Homo sapiens: one gene and its partners. The protein of the gene in region 4 purifies or fractionates together with the protein of the main gene of each other region. This does not show direct contact. Each region holds a gene or a part of one and is shown on either strand. Other genes may lie near its edges. The genes, in order: FAM162A, RAB7A, NDUFA9 and VDAC2.

Region 1 (4,696 bases), on a different chromosome or scaffold from region 4:
CCAAGGTTAGGTTCATTCTAAGAGTCTAAAAATTTCAAAAACCAAAACAACATTATAAATGGTGTTTCTCAAGGACCTTTCACTACCTTTTTAGATTGTGCTTGTGATTTTCAGGCAAGCTAAATGTCTGATGAAGACTGCTCTTCTTTTGTTCTGTGTCTGACCTACTAATTCCTGCCCATGCTTCAAACTCAGTTCAGAAATCACTGAAGGAACCATCCACTGCCGGCCTGCCTGCAACCACAGCTGACAGCTGAGTTAGTTAGGTTTTCCTGTCCCTATTATTTACCAGTTTGTACTGAAATGCTTTCATGGGCTGTGCTTCCAGATTATGAGTTCTGTGGAATCAGGAAGTATGTCTCTGTATTCTTGTATTCTTTGGCTTTTTTGTGTAGTAAAGGGACTCAAGTAATGTTTGACAGTGAAGGATACAACTTCATTCCTTGCCTGCTTTGATAAATTTTAGTAATAAATTCCCAAAACTATCATGTTGATTAAAAATAAAAAGTAACCGTAACCTCACACATTAACTTTATTCAAACAAACAGCACTTACAGGAAATGTAAAGTAGAAAAAGATTTCTGCCCACTTTACCTACGGAGACATGATAAACACGCAAAAAAAACCTAGAAATTAAGCAAAAAATAGCACAATAATTTAACTGAAAGCAACAAGGGCAAAACTGTCTCCTTTTGTAGTTTGTGGTACCTTATAGTAGTGCTCATTCAGTTTCGTTTGCTTGATAAATCTGAGGACTATGAGATATCAGAGTTACTAGTAGGGTAGGAGTGCTGTAAGGGTACTGGGAGAAGTAGGATTAGTTAGGGGCAGATCTTGAATTCTGGCCAAGAAACTGATATTTAACCCATAAAGAGATAGTCACTATATGTTATCAAATAGGAGAATAACACAAATGAGAAATGACTGTTAATTCCTGATGCATAATAACAGTTGTGAGCTTTAGTTTAATGTAATATTTGTAATAAAAACGTTTGGCCAGGCACCATGGCTCATGCCTGTAATCCCAGCACTTTGGGAGGCCGAGGGAGGCTGATCACCTGAGGTCAGGAGTTTGAGACCAGCCTGGCCAACATGGTGAAACCCCCGTCTTTATGAAAAATACAAAAATTAGCCAGGTGTGGTGGTGCACACCTATAATGCCAGTTACTGAGGAGGCTGAGGCACGAGAATTGCTTGAACCCGGGAGACGGAGGTTGCAGTGAGCTGAGATCATGCCCTGCACTCTAGCCTGGGCGACAGTGCAAGACTGTCTCAAAAAAAAAAAAAAGGTTTCATTAAATTTAAGCTCATAAATGTTACTACATTTATAATGTAAATCTCCAAGATACAACACATTTTTGTTGTATTGCTCTATGAAGAGGATTATTTTTAAAAGAAATTCCACATTAAAATTTATCCACATTTAAAACATTGGTGTAGGTGTCCCAAAATAAGAAAAACTAATCTTCTAAAATGTACAAGAAACTATGCTTTTTGAAAATAAATTTGCAAGTGATAACTTGATACCTACAAAGAAGCTAAGGCCAAATTAAAGTATATAGACAGACATCATAAACATCCTCAGATAGATTATCAAGCTATAGGTAGTATGTTACATTTTACTGGGTATTTTATTTGGGAAGAAAGTGCCCAAACAGCTGCATGTATTTTTAATCTCTCTTATAACTCTCTGAGAACCAGCATGTTGGCATGGCTGTATACAGTAGTCACCCCTTACCCTCTGGGGATATATTCCAAGACCCCCCAGTAGATGCCTGAAACTGTGGATAGTACCCAACCCTGCATATACTATGTTTTTCGTATACATACATACCTATGATACCGTTTATTTTATAAATTAGGCACAGCACAATGCACTTTGAGGCAATTATTAAATAAGAGTTACCTGAACACTAGCACTGATTCCACGACAGCTGATCTCGTAACAGAGACGGCTAGCACATACAGTGTGAATACACCAGAGAGAGGGATGATTCACATCCCAGGTGGATGGAACAGATTGGCAAGAGATTTCATCATGCTACACTGAATGGTATGTAATCTATAACTTATGCATTGTTATAGGAATTTTCCATTTAATATTTTCAGACCTCAGGTAACTGAAACCACAGAAAACAAAGCCGTGGATAAGAAGGGACTACTATAATGGCTTGTCATCCATGAATAATTAAGAAGCATGTGAGAATCAATGTTTAAAATAGAAACCTGTATTCATACCTAAATATGAGACAACTCGATATCCCAAGGTCAAACTGTAAATGAGATATATATGAGGTGCAAATACTTCTAACAGTAATAATACATGAGATTTTTATAATTGAGAAATTTAGTTTCTCAGGTGGTAAGAAAACAGCCAGTTGAGAATTCTAAGGCATGAAGCTAAGAGGTGACTTGTGTTGACCCCAAGCAACTCCATGACGCTGGGATTTCTAAGTCCTTAGAAATTCCTGGCTGGACCTTGTCAGAATGTTTAAAAAACTATTCTCCTAAAAGCCTCCATCTGCCAGCATGTTCAAAGATTATAGAATGTGGTCTGGCTGCTTCTCAGCGCTCGCTCTATTAGGGGGCAGCCTCCCCACCAGTACACCAGGACATTTGAGAAGGCTGGCCCTCCAAGCTGCACCTGGGCCATATACTCAACTGGCCTTCCTTATCTCCTCAAAATGAGTTCGCCTGTGGAGAGGTTACTTTGATAATGGGAAGAGAAGTAAGATATGGTACCTGCTTCTCTGAAGAGTTGGTATTCAAGTTGAAATAAATTGTTTCATTTTTCTCCAAAAGGCTGAGAGGCTACACTTGACTTGGATCAAAACAATAAAACACAGTCATTATTTAAGAAAATTTATTTCTACTTCTACAGCAGAAATACGGAAATGGTACAGGTTTGGGCAAATCATACTTTATGAAATGGATCCTCATACCACATCCTTTTTAATACAGGCACGTTATAACATAATTCCTGGATTTTCAAAATCCAGCCAACACGGATACCTCTGCTACTCTGTTTTGGCCTTCATAGCTGCTTCCTCTTTCAGACGAGCTTTCTTTTCTAAGTTCAAGCTTGTTAAAGTCTCGTGTCTTTGGGCAGCCTAAAGCAAAACAGATTTGAACAGGTGATTTGTATGCTGGTCAGGGGAGGGTGTCTTTACCTTGCACTGATGACAGCAGGTTAACAGAGGCATGGAGGCATGGAGTCCTCTGCTGCTTGCACACTGAGCACGGCAGTTTCCTCTATGTGCTTCAACTTCCTCGTACGCTTCCAAGAACAGCAGCTCATCCACTCAAGCATAAGTAAGAAGTGCCACACCTCTCCTTTTTCTTCCCTTCTGGCCCCTTTCTTTCAGTCTTTATCCTCTCCTTTTCTCTTATACTTTCTTCTCATTCCACCCCACTTCTCTTTTATACTAAATACCTTCTCATTGCCATTTCTATCCCGTTTTTCTTCTTTCACTTTTCTCTGTTGCTGCCATTTCTCCTTCCCCAACTTATCTGCATACTCAGATCCTTCTAGTTCCTCACTTCTCTTTTACCAAAAACATTCAGCTTTGGGAATCCCAGACTTTACCCAAATACTACCATTGATGATTTCCACGAGTATCTGTACTACAATTCCAACCTTTGAGTGGGGGAGGCAACCGTCCTCTTCCCTTGTTTCCCTCCATGTAAACGGTCAGATTTCTATGAAGCTTACATACAGGCCAGTTTCAACACTTTTATACCAAATAGTGAAACTAGCACCCTAAGCTGATATTTCCTTCTATCTGTGTAATTTCATATGTAAAAGAATTGGGTATGTGGCGGGGGGTGGGGGAGCGGGGGGAGAAAGGGAAGTTGATGGTGAGAGCAAAATATACAATGGCTAATTTTTCTCTTCCAAATCACATTGAGTTCAAAAGTTCTCCATTCCAGTAGTATTTATGGAAACAGAAATTCCATAAAACTAAAATGTTACAATTTTATGGTAAAGAACAGGAGAAGAACTCTCTAAAATACACAGCATATACCCCTGGATGATGCTAGAAGAGATTCCAGGTGAATAATTTGCTTCTGGAGTATTTAAACTCAGCTAGTACAATCGAGTATACAAAAGCAATGCAAATTTCTCAGAATCCTAGAAGCTCACAGTCCTGTCCACATGTTTCTGCTGGTTTTAATCTGAGAACTATGCATGAGAGGTCAAAGAGGGAGACAAGAAAAAATGAAGTGGGGTGGGAACAGAGTTTTCAAGAGAACTTCACCCAGCTCAGCACATTTGCCCCTTCGTACTCCCATGAGGTCAGCCTAAAATGGTCAGTATTTCCATTTAACTGCAAGAATGAAGACAGCCAAAAGTACATTTCCTTTTACTCTGGAATTACTGAGGATAAGAAAGTCAGTTAAGAGTGCGTGTATAGAAGGACCTTTTTAGTATCTTAAAGTAGTTGTAAGACATCACTTTCCACATGGAAGCTGTGATATATAGAATTATACATGGTATTAAAAGAAGAATTTGACCAAAGCTGCTGAATATAAAAATAACTATGGCTTAATAGCAAGATAGTATAGTATGAGGTTTGGTAACCTGCAAACTTGGGTCTAGATTTTTATCTTGCCACTTGTTAGCTGTGTGAGTTTGGGAAAACTATTTACCTCTTAGGGTTATGGGGGTGATTAAGTGAGCTTAACAGTGCCTGTT
Region 2 (7,043 bases), on a different chromosome or scaffold from region 4:
ACCTTTTAGTCCATTTCCTCATCTAAAAAAAAAAAAAGAGACAAATCAAATGCTGCTTAAATTGTGAAGTTTAAACAAGGTAACAACCTCTATGAAATGTAAAGACATTGTTTATGTACTTTGCTCTGAGTACTGCATTCCTGCTGGGAGGGAAAAGGCAAAGGCAACTTACACAAAGAAGAGTGTCTTGGAAGGCAATTCTTGTGAAGAGGACTTCACTCCTGGATCAATAGATTCTTCAATACGATGCACCACTGTCATCAAGCTTTCTGAACCCAGGTACTAAGCCAAAAGTTTAGTCTCTAACGAGAGACCAGGATGATTCCTGCCTTTTTTTCTTTTTGGTAAGGCAAACTGGAAAGCAGATAGCTAGTAAAACAGTTACATAAGAACTATCTTCGATAGTTTGATATCAACCCTAGATTATCTCAGGCATTTAACCAGTAAAACAGACTGCCCATAAATTGCTAAGAGGAGCCCACAATGGGCTGGCTAAAGAGGAAAACCAAACTAACTGCTCTCTTCCTCTATCCCACCTCCCCTAACCAGCTCCCATGTTTAACTTTTCATTAAAGCCACTTCTGAAGAAGCAACTCTCTGAAAGTTTAAGCACAACTCTTGTAGTATTTCAATCCTAGCCCACTAAGCTCTTAATGTATGGTTTCTTTAGACAAATTACAACATCAAAGCCATTCCTCACCCATAACTGGGGTACTATCTGACTTAATTGTGAGGTTCAAGTGACAGGATTATGCTGTGTCTATTCCAGCATTACAGAGTGAAGTGCCACTTGGTTGAACTTAAATCCTCTAACAAGGGATTGCAGTGCCTGCCCTCCCTACCAGGATCTGGTTTCCATACATACAGTCATTCCCAAATTAGAGCTACTGCAATCCCTACATCCATTCATTGACTTATGCCATTCTTTCCAACTATAATGGTTTCCCAACTCTCACCTGCCTACCAATTTATTTAAAAATCCACTCAACATGCCCCTCACCACCCCAGGCATTGAACAACTCTAAACTAAGTAACTCTCATCTGCCCTGTATTTACAATTATTCCTGAATAATTCTCCACAGGGGCCAACAGTGTTTTCTTATAGTAGAGAAGAAAAACCTGTTAAATGAACACAGAACACATAGTTCATCATTCAGGAAACCCACATATATTAACCACTGACCCAGAAGCATAACTTACATGCTATAAACGGTAACTTACTCTGAAAAGCTAGAACTGGAAAAAATTTAAACAAAAGCTTAGTAATATTTCAAGATCCATTCTAGAATAATGATTCATCCTTGTCCTCAAGTGGCTTAGAGTTGGAAGACAGGCAAAGTCATGTAATATTATTTCAATCAAACTAAGGTCTATAATGGATACACAAAGCTGAAGATCACGCAGCCAAAAGGCTGGTGGTGAAAGGCCCACTAATATCTGAAGGGTCAGTCAGAATATGCAAAACAGACCTATTTCTAGCATATGTACGATAGAATGTGATATTCTAAGGGCTCAAGTGTCTGACCAAAAAAGAGAGTTGGAATGAAAGCACCATCTACTATGGTTAGATCTACACCCCACAGATTACTCTTTCACAGGCCAATTCCACCACCAGGAATGGAGTCCAGACTATAAAAGTAAGCTATGGGCAACTATGGAAGACTAACTGCTCATTCACTGGACTGAAGCGGTGTTTTCCTTTCTTTCTTTTCTTTCCTTTTTTTTTTTTTTTTTTTTTTTGAGGTAGGGTCTCATTCTGTCGCCCAGGCTAGAGTGCAGTGGTGAAATCTCAGCTCCACCTCCCAGGTTCAAGCGATTCTCATGCAACATCCACCTCCCAGGTTCGAGCGATTGTCATGTCTCAGCCTCCCAAGTAGCTGGAATTACAAGTGCCCACCACCACGCCTGGCTAATTTTTTGTATTTTCAGTAGACACAGGGTTTCGCTATGTTGGCCAGGCTGGTCTTGAACTCCTGGCCTCAAGTGATCCGCCCACCTCGGTCTCCCAAAGTGCTGGGATTACAGGCATGAGCCACTGTGCCTGGCCGAACCTCTGCTTTTAACCCCAATGGATTTAAGTAGCATTTACAAGAGGTAGTCTCAAACTGACACGTTTTACTCCAGGATAACCTTCCCCAGTCCCTTGAGGTTCCCCTACACTGGTGAGTAAACAAGCTGTACCATGGTGCCATAAAGAAATGGCTTTCTACCAGAGGGAACTAAAATTAGAGAGAAAAAGTTACAAGTGCTAGCAAGGATGTGGAATATTTGGACTTCTTATATACTGCTGGTGGAAGAATACGCTGGTACAACTTTTGAAAACTGGCCATATCTACTAGAGCAGAATAGATACTCTTATGAAGTGAACTGTGTCCACCTAAAATTTTTAAGTTGAAATTCTAATCCCCAATATATCAGAATGTGACTTATTTGCAGACAGGGCCTTTAAAGAAGTAACTGAGGTTAAGTGAGGTCATAAGGGTGGGCCTCAATCCAATACGACTGGTGTCCTAAAAGAAAAGGAGAATAGGACACAGCCAATACAGAGGAAAGATCCTGTGAAGATACAGGGAAGAGAAGACAGTCATTTACAAACCAAGGAGAGGCTTCAGAAGAAACTAATCCTCCCGACAGCTTGACCTCAGATTTCTAACCTTCAGAATTGAGAAAATAAATTTCTGTTTAAGCCACTCTATCTGTGATACTTGTTACGGCAGCCCTAGCAAATGAATACAGACACATACCCTAAAACTCAGTCTTTTTACTTAAATACATTATGATATATCACATAATACTACTGAGCAATGGAAACTCCAGTTACAACTGTACACAACAACACAAAGTCTCACAAACAACACTGAGTCAAAGAAACCAGATACGCAAGAATACACAGTGTATGATTCCATTTACACAAAATCCAAATCAGGCAAAATTAGTCTACAGTTCTAGAAATCAGAAGACTCACTACGCAAGCATCAGGGCATCGATGATAATGACTTAAAGGAGACTAAGAGGGCCTCTGGGTTTATAAAAATTCTCTAAGCCGTCCACTTATTTGTGCACTTTTCTGTATATATGTATGTTTACTAAAATACAGAAATGATAAATTACTTGGAAATACAGGCAACAATGTACTTATCCAGTGTTACCATGGCAAATAAACCTTACTCTGGAGCTGGATGCATCAGGTTCCTCACTCGTTACCAACAAACATTTGAAAAATACAGCTATTCCTATGATCCCCAGCTTCTCATCATTCAGTGTCTACTAGGAGAAGTATCACAGGTCACATCACCCAAGAGTATCTGGTCTCCTCCACAGTTAAATTCTCACATCATTTTTGGGGAGAGTTCAATTTCTTTTTTCTTGAGACAGGGTCTTGCTCTGCCACCCAGGCTGGAGTGCAGTGCCACGAACACAAACCACTGCAGCCTTAAACTCCTGGAATCAAGTGATCCTCCCGTCTCAGCCTCCCACCATCTGGAACCACAAGTGTACCACCACACCCACCTAATTTTTTCTTTTCTTTGTAGAGATGGAGTCTTACTTTGTTGCTGAAGGTGGTCTTGAACTCCTGGGCTCAAGCAATCCTCCTGCCTTACCCTCCCAAAGTGCTGGGATTACTCCTCCCAAAGTACTGACCACCATGCCTGGCCAAGAGTTCAATCTCATTAAAGGAAGGTATGAAAGTATACATTCAAAGGAAGAAAATAACCAGTTAACACTTTGGTCTTCCTCGGGGTAGTGAATCACAAATTTTCCTTCTTTATATTTCTGAATTTTCCTAGCTTTTTTTTTTTAACTGAATAGTTTAATAATCAGCAAAAAAGACGTATCATTTTAAATAAAAGGTAGTGGGCCAGGCGTGGTGGTTCACGCCTGTAATCCCAGCACCTTGGGAGGCCAAGGCGGGCGGATCACAGGGTCAAGGGATTGAGACCATCCTGGCCAACATGGTGAAACCCCATCTATACTAAAAATACAAAAATTAGCTGGGCATGGTGACGTGCACCTGTAGCCCCAGCTACTCAGGAGGCTGAGGCAGGAGAATTGCTTGAACCCGAGAGGCGGAGGTTGCAGTGAGCCGAGATCATGCTACTGCACTCCAGCCTGGCGACAGAGCTTGACTCTGTCTCAGAGAGAGAAAAAAAAAAAAGGTAGTGGAAGAAAGAGACACTTTTTTTTTTTTTTGAGATGGAATCTTGCTCTGTCGCCAGGCTGGAGTGCAATGGCACGATCCCGGCTCACTGCAAGCTCCGCCTCCCCAGTTCAAGCGATTCTACTACCTCAGCCTCCTGAATAGCTGGGACTACAGTGCATGCCACTATGCCCAGCTAATTTTTATATTTTTAGTATAGACGGGGTTTCACCACGTTGGCCAGGATGGTCTCTATCTCTTGACCCTGTGATCCACCCTCCTCGGCCTCCCAAAGTGCTGGGATTACAGGTGTGAGCCATCGCCCCCGGCCGAAAGATACACTTTTACAAGGGGTGAAATGTCGTGGTCTTTAGGGCACTAGCATATAATGGAAAGGCAGGATGGTACATCAGAAAGAGCACTGAACTGAGTTAGCAGACCTAGACTGACATTCCAGCTGAGCCACCTGAGCATACAGCCTCAGCTATTTCAGGCAGATACACACAACAGTTGTGAGCACCAAATGAAATCACATGTAAACTACAAATACCACAGAAACATTAAAAAGCATTTAAAGGCAAATGTGTAGGAAGGTTTCTACAAAATGTTATCGCTTTTTTAACAACCATTAACATGGTGCAGGTCAGAGGATTTAAGAGTGGGTTTTAAATGACCCGCAGTTATCTCAGGGATCCTCATATCTGTAAGTGAACAGAAGAACTGTTGGTAGGCTGACTGAATACCACATATAAGGGACACTATTTTTCATAAAGTCTATGCTTGGTTATTTAAGGTTAATTCATAGCAGCTTTGTAATTATGCACTCTCAAATAACTCAAACTACAAAGCTTATTCAATGGAAACCAACTTTTTATTACACTTACATACCAATATTGGAAATCAATGATGTAACTATTTACTTCACTAAGTAACTTTTAAAGGACTCCTGATCTGAGATGGTTAATGCCCAGCAGTATGAAGCAAAGCTGGAAAGGAAAGGCTGAGGGAGAAGAGAGAACTTCCTTTCCTTTATCTGGCAGCAGCCACACAAGAAGGACCAACTAAGAGACAAGCAAGGCTGGAGAATTCCTAAACTGCCCTTGTCCCAGGCTCCCCTTAAATAGGCTCCCTTGGATTTGCTTGGTCCCAACTGTAGACAGTCCCAGGACACCAGAAGTGGACAACAGAATCAGGCAAACTTAAATTTCTCAGCAGTGATGCCATCACCAAAACAGAGACTCCAGGCCCCATGAGTTAAGTACTGCATCTTCAAGCAAATGAACAAGGCCAATGCTGTAGGTCAGCATTGGAACCAACTCCCAAGCTTTCTTCCTCCCACAAGGAGATATTTTGCAAGTAGCTATTCTTAAATATGTTTTTGTAATCACAGCCTGGGATACTAAAATTGAAACTGGTAACAGACACTGCTAAAAAACTTGTTTTGATTTCACTCGCCACATCACTTTTACCTCTGATTCACAAATCGCAGTGACCACCACCATTAAGAAATGTTTTAAAAATAAGTTTTAGGCTGGGCATGGTGGCTCACGCCTGTAATTCCAGCACTTTGGGAGGCCGAGGCGGGTGGATCACGAGGTCAGGAGATCAAGACCAATCTGGCTAACACGGTGAAACCCCGTCTCTACTAAAAATACAAAAATTAGCCGGGCGTGGTGGTGGGTGCCTGTAGTCCCAGCTACTCGGGAGGCTGAGGCAGGAGAATGGCATGAATCTGGAAGGTGGAGCTTGCAGTGAGCTGAGATGGCACCACTGCACTCCAGCCTGGGCTACAAAGCAAGATTCCGTCTAAAAAAAAAAAAAAAGTTTTAAAACACAAACTATTTTTCTGTCTTTAATGCCATATGGAGTGTGGGGAAAAACAGAATAGAAGATTTAAGAGCAAATAACTGAAAAGATCAGCATATTGCAAAAATGTTTCTGCAGCAAACTGCAGACAGAGAAGCATAGAGAACTATTAGATAATATTAACAGATAAGCATGTGGTAACACAAAGGAATGGATGCCTGAGAATACAATGGTAGCCTTCCTTACATGAGAGGTAAGAATCATCAACAGCAAGCCAATAGCCAAAAAATAAGGGGGGAGGCGGGGAGTTCATTTCTCGAGTTTCAGTCGCCTTCAGAAGAAGACATTTAATGCCAAGGGGAACCTCTGTTTAGCCTTATTCAGGAGGACTTCTAATCCTTACCTCCCCAGGAAAAGCCTGCCTACAGCTCCAAGTCCAACATCTGGTCAAATCTATCTCAGCTGTATTTGTTGAATTAAATGAATGGGGAGATAAATACTTTATCATAGGAAAAACTAAAATATTTGTGTCAAATGCCAGAGAGGAATGTGCATAAGACAACTGTCATATTTGCGTGGTCTGTGTTTGCTACATCTTTGTTTACAAAGTCTAATGCCAAAGTAAGAGCAAAAACGTTATTAGTGAAGATCCCTTTGAAGACTTTTTTTTTTTTTTTTTTTGAGAAGAAGTCTCGCTCTGTCGCCCAGGCTGGAGTGCAGCGGCATGATCTCTGCTCACTGCAAGCCCTGCCTCCTGGGTTCACGCCATTCTCCTGCCTCAGCCTCACGAGTAGCTGGGACTACAGGCGCCCGCCACCACGCCCGGCTAATTTTTTGTATTTTTAGTAGAGATGGGGTTTCACTGTGTTAGCCAGGATGGTCTCGATCTCCTGACCTCATGATCCACCTGCCTCGGCCTCCCAAAGTGCTGGGATTACAGGCGTGAGCCACCGTGCCCAGCTGAAGACATATTAAAAGCTAATCAAATAACCAAAATTTTTTGGCTTCACTTGGCAGTGGGGTCAGAAAACTGATTCAAAGCCACACTTTACTATAAAGAGTTGTTCTCTGATTACAGGGTTGGTGAGCTTAGACACAG
Region 3 (7,043 bases), on a different chromosome or scaffold from region 4:
GGGCCGACCCAAAAGACGCCAAAACCAAGAGCTGCTCAGGAGGCACTAAATGTTGACGGTCTTGGCCGGCTTCACATCCTCAATTTCAGCAGACAGCCAGCGGTAAGTGCGATGACGCCGCAGCACCTCAATGGCCTTGAGTTCCAGTGGTGTTGCCTGAATACCAAGGTCTTCTAAGCCAGGCAGGTGAGGCAATTTCATGTCTGTGATGTGCATCTTTGGATAAACAAAGGACCACAGACAATGCTGAAAACTGGCTGAGAACAAAGTGCTATCCTAGCAGGCACTTAAACATTCAAGCTGGCATGAGTCCTATTATTGAGACTTAATTGCTTTCAAAGAATATGTGGCAATTTTCGATTCATGCAAATCACTATAAAAGCAGAACACACAAAGAGGGCTTAAGACAAAAGAGGGCGAGATCACCAAGTATCAGATCGAGGTCCCCAGTGGCAGCCGCGAGCACAGGATGTTGGCACTACATGAGCCATTCTATATACAGATTTCAACAGAAATAAATCTAGGGCAGGGAAGCACAAGTCACCACACTTGCCAGGGGAGGCTGAACAGGAGGGTTTAGGAATAAAATCAGGGCTTAAGCAGAGCTGGTCCATTCCTCAGTCCTCTCACGCCCCTGTTTTCTGAGCACGGGCGTTCTGACTCAGTTTTAACTTTGAATTTAGGAGATAACACAACATTTGTTCCTTGCCCATTAAAAAAAAAAAAAAACAAGTAACTTTTTTTGCTCCAGCTGTACTCAACCTGGTTGACTAATGCTCACTGTAGAGCTAGAAAACCAAACCCATCTTGTTTATAGGGAAAGATAATGAACTGTAAAGTTTGCAAACATCCCAGATTATTATTCAAAACCACATAAATAGAATCCATTTGCACCTAGAGCAGCAGCAATCCCTCATCCTACCCACCTGAAAGTCTGCAATTCTTTTACCAGAGGGCTGTAAGCCAGTCTGCAAACCAAATCCAAAACCTACTCAGGCCACTGTATCAACACTTTCTCAAGTATAAACGTAAGAGACACTTTAGTGTAAGATAAACTGAAGTGTCTGACAACCAGCGATCCTGCCTGATCTTTCATAGACCATGTCTGAAGAAAGTATGTGAGTTGCCCACTTCCACATGTTCCCTAAGCACTACTTTCTCATCTTCTCTACACTTTAGCTTTCAGGCAGCATTCAGGGGACAATTTGGCTACTTCTTGCCAATATATGGTCCATAGGTCTTCCAAGGTAGATGTGGTATTGGTATAGTATTTTTATTTTATTTTGCATCCTCCCTAGAAGCAAATGCACAGGCACATGACATGAGGTCTGAGAACTGACCATTGGATGTGGCAGCAAGGAGACTGGAGATTGTGGATAACCTTGAAAAGAGCAATTTTAGGGGAGAAATGGGAATAAAAGCCTGACTGGAGTAGGTTAAAGAAAGAAGGAAGAAACTGTCAACAGTTTCTTCAGGACGTTAGGAGGAAGTTAGGAGGAGTTAGGATGTGAAGGGACACAACAGGAAAGTAGCTGGAAGAGTGATGGGAGGAAGAGAGGCTTTGGCAGGGGAGCTATTAGGCAATTTTGTGTGTTGACAGGAGTGATCAAGCAGAGAAAGAAACACTGATAATGACGGACAGAAAGTAGGGAGGAGCCGCCCCCTGGAGCAGGGCAGGTGGATGAGCTTCAGCGCTAGTAGAGGGGCTGACTGCAGACAGCAAGAACAGCAAACAGACAAGGGCCGGGAAACAAGCAAGCAGGCAAAGCAAAATAAGTCTAACGCCTCATCATCTGCCCAGGCAGACGCTTTCCACACATGTACTCACCCGCTCCACTTTATCCCTTGTTATCCAGGGCTCAAATGGGCTTATTTCAAAGACTCTTGCTACCCATCTGGAAAGAGAAATACATATAGCACATGTGATAAGCATCTCTCTGCCCAAGATGTAAGCTAGCCTATGAGAACTGCAGGAAGACAGACCGCTGTAGAGCAGTCTGAACTGATTTTTTTTTTTTAAGAAAATAACCACCTCGACCTGTGAGGCTACCTCTGCTTTTTGGTCCATCTCCTCTCAAGCCAACCCAGTCGGCTGCTGTAACTGCTGGTACACTTTGTTCTCCTCCAAAGAAACAACAGATCTTAAACTTAAAATGAAATAAAACCAACAAACAACAAAGCAAACAGAAAAACTCCAGTATTTAATCAAGTCTGTGAAATTCAATTTAATCTAAACCTCAGATATTCAAATATGCTGCCTTTACAGAAGCAGGGCAAGCTGAATGGTGTGTAAAATATACAACGTAACCCCTGAAAGCTGGGGCCCTTGAGGAAAAAAAAAAAAATCCAAAAGCAAGGAGAAGGCTAAAATCTACGGTTCAAATCAGGACGACAATATAAAACCCAAAACGGAAAAGGCCACCTATCTTCATTACTGCCATCTCTTCACTGCTAATGAAAATTGAAGGGCTCCTTACGTGCCACTTGAGCTCCCATCATCAGTTACCTCAGGGCAGTGACTTTTTCTTTTCTTTCCTTGTTTTTGTTCCACAGACAGGGTCTCACTATGTTGTCCAGGCCGGACTCACACTCCCAGGCTCAAGTGATCCTCCCACTTCAGCCTCCCAAGTAGCTGGGACTACAGGTGTACACCACTGTGCCCAGTAGCAGTGGGTTTTCAACTAGCATCTGAGGAACACTAGGAATTTGCTGGGGCCCCACAGAGTCCTGGGGGGCCAAGGGTTTGGGAGTACATGCGTTGAGTATCACCCATCACTGCAACCAGACCAGCTCTTTTATTGGATTTACCCAGCAGGACTTGACGTAAAACTTCAGTGAGCACAGGGTTCCACAGCCGTTTAAAGGCTTGAAAAACAACATTCTAATGCATAGTATAAATAAATGAAAAAGGAAGCTGGCTGGAATTTCTCCAGCAACATATAAAGCCTCAGATTCCTCAACGGCAGAAAAAAATAATTTATTGGGCTAACATAGCTTAATAAAAACACTCATTACAAACCTCTAACTCTCTGTGCCCTCATTCTATGCTAACAGATCACTTCAGGTCTCTATTCTAGTGTCCTCAGTGGGCCATGTCATGGGCATACATAAGCCAACTCTAACTCAATTTTATATACAACCATGAAAGTGCCTCACTGCAATCTGGCTTATATCCCTTTCACGGCACTGAAGCCACGGTCACAATGGTCATTTGTAGACATTTTTTGGTCCTTTATCTTATTTGACTTTTCTGTAAGACTTCATTCTACCAATATTAACAGAGTGCCTAATGTGTACCAGGCATTGTTCTAGGGGCTTGAGATACATGTGAATGAACAGCAATGTTCCCCTTCTTAAAACATCGATTCTCTCCTGAAAACACTCCATTCCCTTTGGTATCTAGAATTCCAAACTCTCATTTCCCACTTAAATGCCTGATCACTTTTTGGCCTTCTTGTAAGTTTCTCTTACTCTGTGGCCTCCTCTTCCACTCACTCCACATACTCTCCTTACTTACTTTATAGATAACTGAGTATTAAAGGAGACAAAGTGAATAGTCTGAAAGGTGTAACACTCAATAAATATCGTTATCACCCTGCATTCTAGTGGTCTATTTTTCTGGTACCCCTGTTAGACCATAAGATTTTTGAGTTTTTGTTGTAACATTCTGACCATAAGATTTTTGAGTGTTTGTTGTAACCTTCTGAGTACCTAGTACATTATCTAAGACATAGTAGGCATTCAATAAACATTTGTTGAATGAATGGATGAAAACCCAAATGAAGATCAGTTTGTGGCACAATGGATGTGACAGTCTCCTTAACCAGACCACTAGGGTGTGACATGGTAAGTTCAAGATTTTATTTTATTTGGTTCAAATCAGGACAATATAAAACCTAGGACGAGAAAGGAGCTCCCATCAACAGTTACCTCAGGGCAGTAGGTTTTTCTTTTCTTTCTTTTTTTTTTTTTTGTTCCAGAGACAGGGTCTCACTATGTTGTCCAGGCTGGATTCAAACTCCTGAACTCAAGTGATCCTCCCACCTCAGCCTCCCAAGTAGCTGGGACTATAGGTGTGCACCACTGTGCGCAGTAGCAGTCACCTAGGCTGGAGTGCAGTGGCACAATCTCAGCTCACTGGAAGCCTTGAACTCCCAAGCTCAAGCAATTCTCTTGCATCACCCCACCTCCACCCCAGTAGGTGGGACTACAGGCAGATGCCACCACATCCAGCTAATTTGGTATGTTTTGTAGAGATGGGGCTTCGCTATATTGCCCAGGCTGGTCTCAAACTCCTGGGCTCAAGCAATCTGCCCTCCTTGGCCTCCCAAAGTACTGGGATTATAGGCATGAGCCACCACTCCCAGCCAAGTCAAAGATATTTAACCCACAAAGAGAAGAAGTAAACTAAGAAGCAGGGAAAGAAGAGAAGGCAACCACAAATCCAAGTCTGAATTAGCCTGACTCCTTTCCCCAATAGCATGATCAGGTTGATTTAATAATGAGCGACATGAAACACAGGGGAACCTGACTGCCCCTTACATATGTGCCTAGCAAGATATTTCTCCAAAATTAAACTCGATGGTTTTAAATTGGAGAAAGTGAAGAACTGCATCTTCACTTTTGGGAAGTGGGAAGATTCACTTTTGGGAATTGGGAAGATTTAATGTTCCAATATATTTTTTTTTAACCAACACTAATCTATTTCTGCTTCTTCTCTATGCTAATGTCATAACACTAGGAGATCTGGAGACCAGCCCTTCACACACCCTATAACCCTAAGGGAGAACATTAGGAACAAGTGTGTGGAGCTGGCTTTTTCAGAAGTCACACAAAAGGAGCACTCTACTTACCGATAGGCAAAAAGCGGCAAGGGGAATGGGAGGAACAATCTGTGAGCCACAGCAAAGATGTACTTCACCAGGTGGAAAAGGAGGTACCGACTGGGACTATAAAAAGACAATACACAGTTCTTTCAATTACACGCTTCTCACAAAGTTTCCTTTATAACAAAATAACATTTTCCTTATAAAAAAGGAAACATATATGCACTGTAGTAGATACAGAATAGCACAAAGAAAAATCACCCATAATCCCATTATGAAAGATAGTTAATATATTTGATCTATATCCTTCTCATCCCCTTACATATATACATTATTCTGCTTTTAATAAATACACAATCCATTCTATTCCGTAATGTCTTTTTCATTTAACATTACATCATAATCGTCTTTCCACATCATTATTTTATTGCATGTTTCATGACAACATATTACACTGCATGTAATCACAATTATTTTATCAATTGCCAGTTTTGAGATATTTATGCTATTAAAATTTTTTTCTTTTATAATGTTTTAATGAACATTCTTGTAATAAATATTTGTACTTATCCATGATTACGCATTTAGAATATATTTGTAGAAGTGGAACTGGGTCAATGTAGACTTTAAAATTTTAAGGCTTTTATTGAATACTTCTAAACTGCTTTTCAAAATGGTTCTATCAATTTATATAAAATGTTAAGTATATAACATTTTAGATAATTATATAAATTATAATTATATATATGTAATTATATATAAGAATGCCCCCTCCACCCGAAATGAGTTGTCATAAGAAAATAAAATTTTTGCCAATCTGCTAGGTTAAAAAAAAAAAGGTATCTCATGTTTTAATTATTATGTCTTTAATATGAGAGATCATTTCTTCACGAATTTTTGGTCATTTATACATCTATCTTTTCTTTCCTCCTGGAGTCCCTGTCTATAAAAATAATTTGTAAGAATTCTCTATATTTTAGTGATATTGTTGGAAATACCTTTTATTGTTTGTATTTTAACTTTTAGTGTTATTTACAGTGTTTTGTGCACATAAAATTTTAACTGTTTAATTTAACCAAAACTACTGATTTTCTTTATGGCTTGGATTCATAGTTAGAAAATTCCTCTGCAGTGACATAAATTTCTACATATTTTGTCTAAACCTTATAAAAAAGATTTTTTTTTTACTATAAAGTTCCTTCTGTGACGTATTTTTGTACATTATATAAGGTAAACATGTAATTATATTTTTCCCAAGATGTAAGCCAATTGCTTCAATGCTACTTACAGAATCATTTACTGTACTGCCTCTTTCCCTATACTGAAATGTCACCCTTATCACATACTATATCCTTACATATAATGGGACTGTTTCTGAACGTTCCGCTCTATTCCATTAATCTGAATAGTTCTGTACGATTTTAACCTAGCATTAATAAGTATCAGTGCTTATAATGCATTTTAATATTTCTTTACCCATTTCCTAATTCATTTGCATGCTTCATGACAGTAAATCTGTGACAACCAAGAGCTGAGTGAAGGTAATTCAGTGAGAACCTCATTATTCTGACATACTTTACTAAAAAACATGAAACTATCAGCCAGGAGAAATATCAGACAAAGGCCTTAGCAGGGTTCTTCAAATTCCAGAGGGATTTGTAAGGATCATTACAGGACATATAATACATGCTACGCCAAGAGCAACTTGAATTTTTACGATGACAAACAAAACTGGTATCATGGGTTAACTAACTCTACATAATAGGTTTCCTTTTCAGCTGTTCTGAAGCACTTTGTGTTCCATCAAGTGCAACCGGAACACTAGTTTAAGTGCCCTTCCTCACAGCCAAAGGTACATTGAAGCCCGCATCCTCCCAGCTTAGATTTCAAGGCTCAGCATCACAGTTATTCCTCTGCAAATATCCTCAGCAAAATCTTGTCTCCCAGGCCCCTACCCACTATACTTGCTAAGCAAAACTCACTCTGGTTGACCCAAACATGTGCCTTCTCTGAGCCTGAAACCCCAGAAGGACAAAACTGTAGACGAAATACAATTGAACTGATTGACTTCACCTTATTTTTTTATCAGTAATTTCCAATGGAACACTCAGTTCTGCTTGGCAATCCCACATGTTCTCCTAGGAAATGCTCTTTCCTGTTCTCCCAGGGCATACTTTCTATCTTCTGTCCTCAAATTTTCCACACACTTTTCTGACC
Region 4 (4,196 bases):
ATTTTTGTAGTTTTAGTAGAGACGGGGTTTCACCATCTTGGCCAGGCTGGTCTTGAACTCCTGACCTTGTGATCCTCCCAAAGTGCTGGGATTACAGGCATGAGCCACCCAGCCCGGCCAATAATGGGAATTTCTTTCTTTCTTTCTTTTTTTTTTTTTTGAGGCGGAGTCTCGCTCAGTAGCCCAGGCTGGAGTGCAGTGGCAAGATCTCCACTCACTGCAACCTCCGCCTCCCGGGTTCACGCCTTTCTCCTGCCTTAGCCTCCCGAGTAGCTGGGACTATAGGTGCCCACCACCACGCCCGGCTAATTTTTTGTATTTTTAGTAGAGACGGGGTTTCACCGTGTTAGCCAGGATGGTCTCGATTTCCTGACCTTGTGGTCCGCCTGCCTCGGCCTCCCAAAGTGCTGGGATTACAGGCGTGAGCCACTGCGCCTGGCCAATAATAGGAATGTCTATCCAGCTGTCTGAGGCTCTTATTTGTAGGGTACAAGATGGTCATTAGTGAGGTATTTTTCTTTCTTTTTTTTTTTTTGAGCTTTGTTGCCTAGGCTGTAGTTCACTGGTGCAATCACAGCTCACTGTGCCCTCAGCCACCTGGGCTTGAGATCCTTCCACTCACCCCCCACTTCCCTGGTAGTTGGGTAGGTGTGCACCATCATACCAAGCTAGGAAAATTTTGTACAGACAGACAGGGGTCTCACCGTGTTGCCCAGGCTGTTGAATTCCTGGGCTCAAGTGGTCCTCCCGCCTTGGCCTCCCAAAGTGCAGGGATTACTGGTGTCAGCCACTGCGCCAGGCCTGTTTTTTTCTTTAGATGGTCATTGGTAGCTCATGAATATTTGGCTGTAGTGCCAAGTGAATACAGGTGTTTTGGATGTGGTTTGTGTCTGTATAGTTACATCATTTCTTTCTCTGGATTGGGCTCTTTGGATGTTACACATTATAAGAGTATAGACATCGAATCATTTGGAGATCTGTTTTGGTCACATAGTCTGTTTGTTACCTTTATATTGTAGCCCTCAGAATGCTGAAAGCAAAGCAAAGTTGCATGTCTAGGCAACCTAGGCCCTGGAAATGAAGGCAGGTGTTCCTGGCCTCTGGTGTGTCTTCATAATGTTAGGGGTGGTAGAGAATGGAGCTAGAAAGAATCTACTCTTTACTATGTCTTACTCTTCAGGGTTCATTCCAGCCCTTGAAGTCGGTAACTAAGTCCTAAAATGTTGGGATTGTGCAAGGAAGGCAGGGGCCTGGATTGGTACATGATACCTCACTGGGACCTCCTCCCAAACGCAGTGGTTACATACAGCCAGAACTCAGCAGCACCGGCATTTATGAGAGGTGTAAGAATGTGAGGATAAAGGATTGTTTGATCTGATTCTTCAGAGGAATTACTTGTCGTTTGGAGATTTTTTTTTTTTTTTTAAACATTCATGGTTTTGATTCTTTAGGAAGAGTCCTGGAAGTAGTAATGTGTGTAACTAAGTCATGAATTTAAACTTTATACCCTGTGCTTTAAGGCTGCTGTGTGTCACCTCTAGTGAGCCTGACTTGTACCACATTTTGGTCTGGTTTGTTGTGCTAGACTAGAATTAACAAAGATGATTTTTATGAGAGTGCTTAGGCTTTTGTGCTGTATGGACAGTTTGGGGTCTTTGGATACATTCCAGTGGCTATCAAGAGTATTGTGTCCTACTGAGAATTTGATTTTTGAGTTGAATGGATACGAATTAAATAGTACCTGGTTTGTTTGGCTTAATACATAATATTGAATTTTATTGTCTCACGTGAATAAAACTGAACACTTCATGATTACATGATGGGGAAACATGTAGGGGCTTTGTCTCTATTGAAATATTTTTCTTACAGTTGTTTTTGTATTTTATTTTAGGCAAAAGTCAACAACTCTAGCTTAATTGGAGTAGGCTATACTCAGACTCTGAGGCCTGGTAAGTATTCTTGATAAAGTAGGATTGTTTTGATAGTATTAAAAAATTTAGTTTTCATTCTTCAGCTTACTTTTCAGACCTTTCAAGCACACAGAAGAGTTGAAAGAAGAGTACAATAAATACGTGTTTACCTTTTACCACAATTTTTTATTTCTTTTTCTTTGCTTTTTTTTTTTTTGCTGGGCCATTTGGTCATGACACTTCTCTTCAGAATAAGGCCCGTCTCTTCTTTTCTGCATAACTATAATACTATCACACCTAAGAAAGTTAGTGATTCCTTATTATTTAATACCCACTTCCTGTCAGTTTCCTCGCTTGTATCTGAAATGTTTTGTAGTAATTTTTATTTTGTTGATCAAAGTTCACTCATTGCTTTGGTTCTGCCTATAGTCTTGTTGACTTTATATAATATTTTGAAGCGTGCTGTGTCTAGAACAGCGCTTCTCCAACTTCAGAGTGCACATGACTCATCTTGGAATCTGCTTAAAGTACTGGAGACTTCCCCCTTCAGATAGGGATTTTCCTCCCCAAAGTTTATTTTGGTGATTTTGAAACCTAAAGAAAAGTTGGAAGAATGGTACAATGAACATCATATGTCCTTACCTTGCATTGACCAATTATTAACAATTTATTAACAATTATTAACATTTACTACATTTATTTTATGTCTGAAACTTCACATACTTTTAAAAAAATGTATGTTTTGCAGACATACAGACATGGCAGCCCCTAGCATGTGTATCCTAAGAGTAAGACATTTTTCTTTATAAGCACAATACCATTGTCGCATCTAAGAAAACTAACATTAATGTAATACCAAATACATATTCAGATTTACCCCCGTTCCCAAATGTGTCTTTATTGTAGGTTTTCCTTTCTAGGATCGAATTATGATTATGTCTTTAGTCTCTTTTCATCGGGATAGTATACTCAACATTATAGTATATTCTAGAACACTTTGAAGTTGTTATTAAAACATTTCTCTGTGACTTGGTGCCTTAGCTAGAATGGTAACCCAGTTCTTCTGGTGTCTCAGATACTTCCAAGCGCCCTCTGGTGGCCAGCACTAGTAGGTCAGCTGACAGGCTGAGGAAGTGACAGGCAGGCTCTGGGGATGACTGTGAAAGAAGGCCCAGACTGAGTGACGTGCCAGGTACATCACGGTTTTTTGTTTTTGTGTTTTTTTGTCTTAATAGGTGTGAAGCTTACACTCTCTGCTCTGGTAGATGGGAAGAGCATTAATGCTGGAGGCCACAAGGTTGGGCTCGCCCTGGAGTTGGAGGCTTAATCCAGCTGAAAGAAACCTTTGGGAATGGATATCAGAAGATTTGGCCTTAATATATTTCCATTGTGACCAGCAGCAGGCTTTTTTCCCCCAAGAAGATGATCAAAACAAAGGATGATCTCAACAAGAGCTGTATTTTAAGTATTTAGACAGTTCTTTGTTAGCTGGTTTCTAGTTGGTTATCTAGTTACCAATGCTGCAGTCCTGCAGTCACCTATACATTATTTAAATGTATTTAACTGTTAAATGCGCTACCCACCAATAATGAAATAGACCTTTATGAAAACTGTGCAATTGTGTGCATGTTTGTTTTTATGTTCCTTTAGAAAACATTGACTGTTACCATTGAATGAGATGGATCAGTGGATATTAAGATGAGGTTACAAATTTTGTTAAGTTCAGCCATTATTACTTTTGGTATCCCAGAACATGACAAATTATGAATAAAACAAGTATACATAATTAATGGCTCCAAGTATTTGCGGAGTTCCACGTTTGCCAGCTAGGATCAAATCCCCGTGGTAGCTAGCCAATACTTGATTTTTCCAGTGAGTATTTTGCTCTGTACCTAAATCTGTGCCACAGAATCTTCTGTGTCCCTAGATTCCACGAGCTTTTTAAGACTACAATAAGAGGATACATGCTTTTACACTTTTACATGCACAGTTTGTAAGTCTGTGCAGAATTGCCCTGCATCATTGAAAGGAAAAAGAGAAGGTGCTGAAAAGTTACACAAACACACCATACCCCTGTGAGCTACTGCTAGGAACATAAAGTAGGCCCTGGTTTGGTGAGATGGTGTTAAGCATACAGAAGAGGAGTAAGGTGTAGACAGTGAGGGTAACCTGAGGGACTGTGAGAGGTCATTACTCATTTCCTTCTAGGCAGACACACTGAAAGGTGGGTATAGGTAGGAGACCAGAGACAACCCCTTTAGGCTGCGTGGCATTGGCCTTCATCTG

Evidence for each region.
Region 1: the proteins of VDAC2 (region 4) and FAM162A fractionate together in Homo sapiens (co-fractionation; 3 studies listed by BioGRID and IntAct, with this or other methods). This does not show direct contact.
Region 2: the proteins of VDAC2 (region 4) and RAB7A purify together in Homo sapiens (affinity purification with mass spectrometry; 3 studies listed by BioGRID and IntAct, with this or other methods). This does not show direct contact.
Region 3: the proteins of VDAC2 (region 4) and NDUFA9 fractionate together in Homo sapiens (co-fractionation; 2 studies listed by BioGRID). This does not show direct contact.

Annotation. Positions count from the first base shown.
Region 1 is NC_000003.12:122,408,153-122,412,848, reverse strand, and holds the end of FAM162A (protein FAM162A), read right to left. Parts: intron 3,111-4,696; coding exon 3,018-3,110; 3' UTR 515-3,017; downstream 1-514. UniProt on the Homo sapiens protein: Proposed to be involved in regulation of apoptosis; the exact mechanism may differ between cell types/tissues.
Region 2 is NC_000003.12:128,729,152-128,736,194, reverse strand, and holds part of RAB7A (ras-related protein Rab-7a), read right to left. Parts: intron 1-7,043.
Region 3 is NC_000012.12:4,680,111-4,687,153, reverse strand, and holds part of NDUFA9 (NADH dehydrogenase [ubiquinone] 1 alpha subcomplex subunit 9, mitochondrial precursor), read right to left. Parts: intron 4,950-7,043; coding exon 4,854-4,949; intron 1,896-4,853; coding exon 1,829-1,895; intron 217-1,828; coding exon 46-216; 3' UTR 1-45. UniProt on the Homo sapiens protein: Accessory subunit of the mitochondrial membrane respiratory chain NADH dehydrogenase (Complex I), that is believed not to be involved in catalysis. Required for proper complex I assembly.
Region 4 is NC_000010.11:75,227,753-75,231,948, forward strand, and holds the end of VDAC2 (non-selective voltage-gated ion channel VDAC2), read left to right. Parts: intron 1-1,891; coding exon 1,892-1,949; intron 1,950-3,145; coding exon 3,146-3,237; 3' UTR 3,238-3,696; downstream 3,697-4,196. UniProt on the Homo sapiens protein: Non-selective voltage-gated ion channel that mediates the transport of anions and cations through the mitochondrion outer membrane and plasma membrane.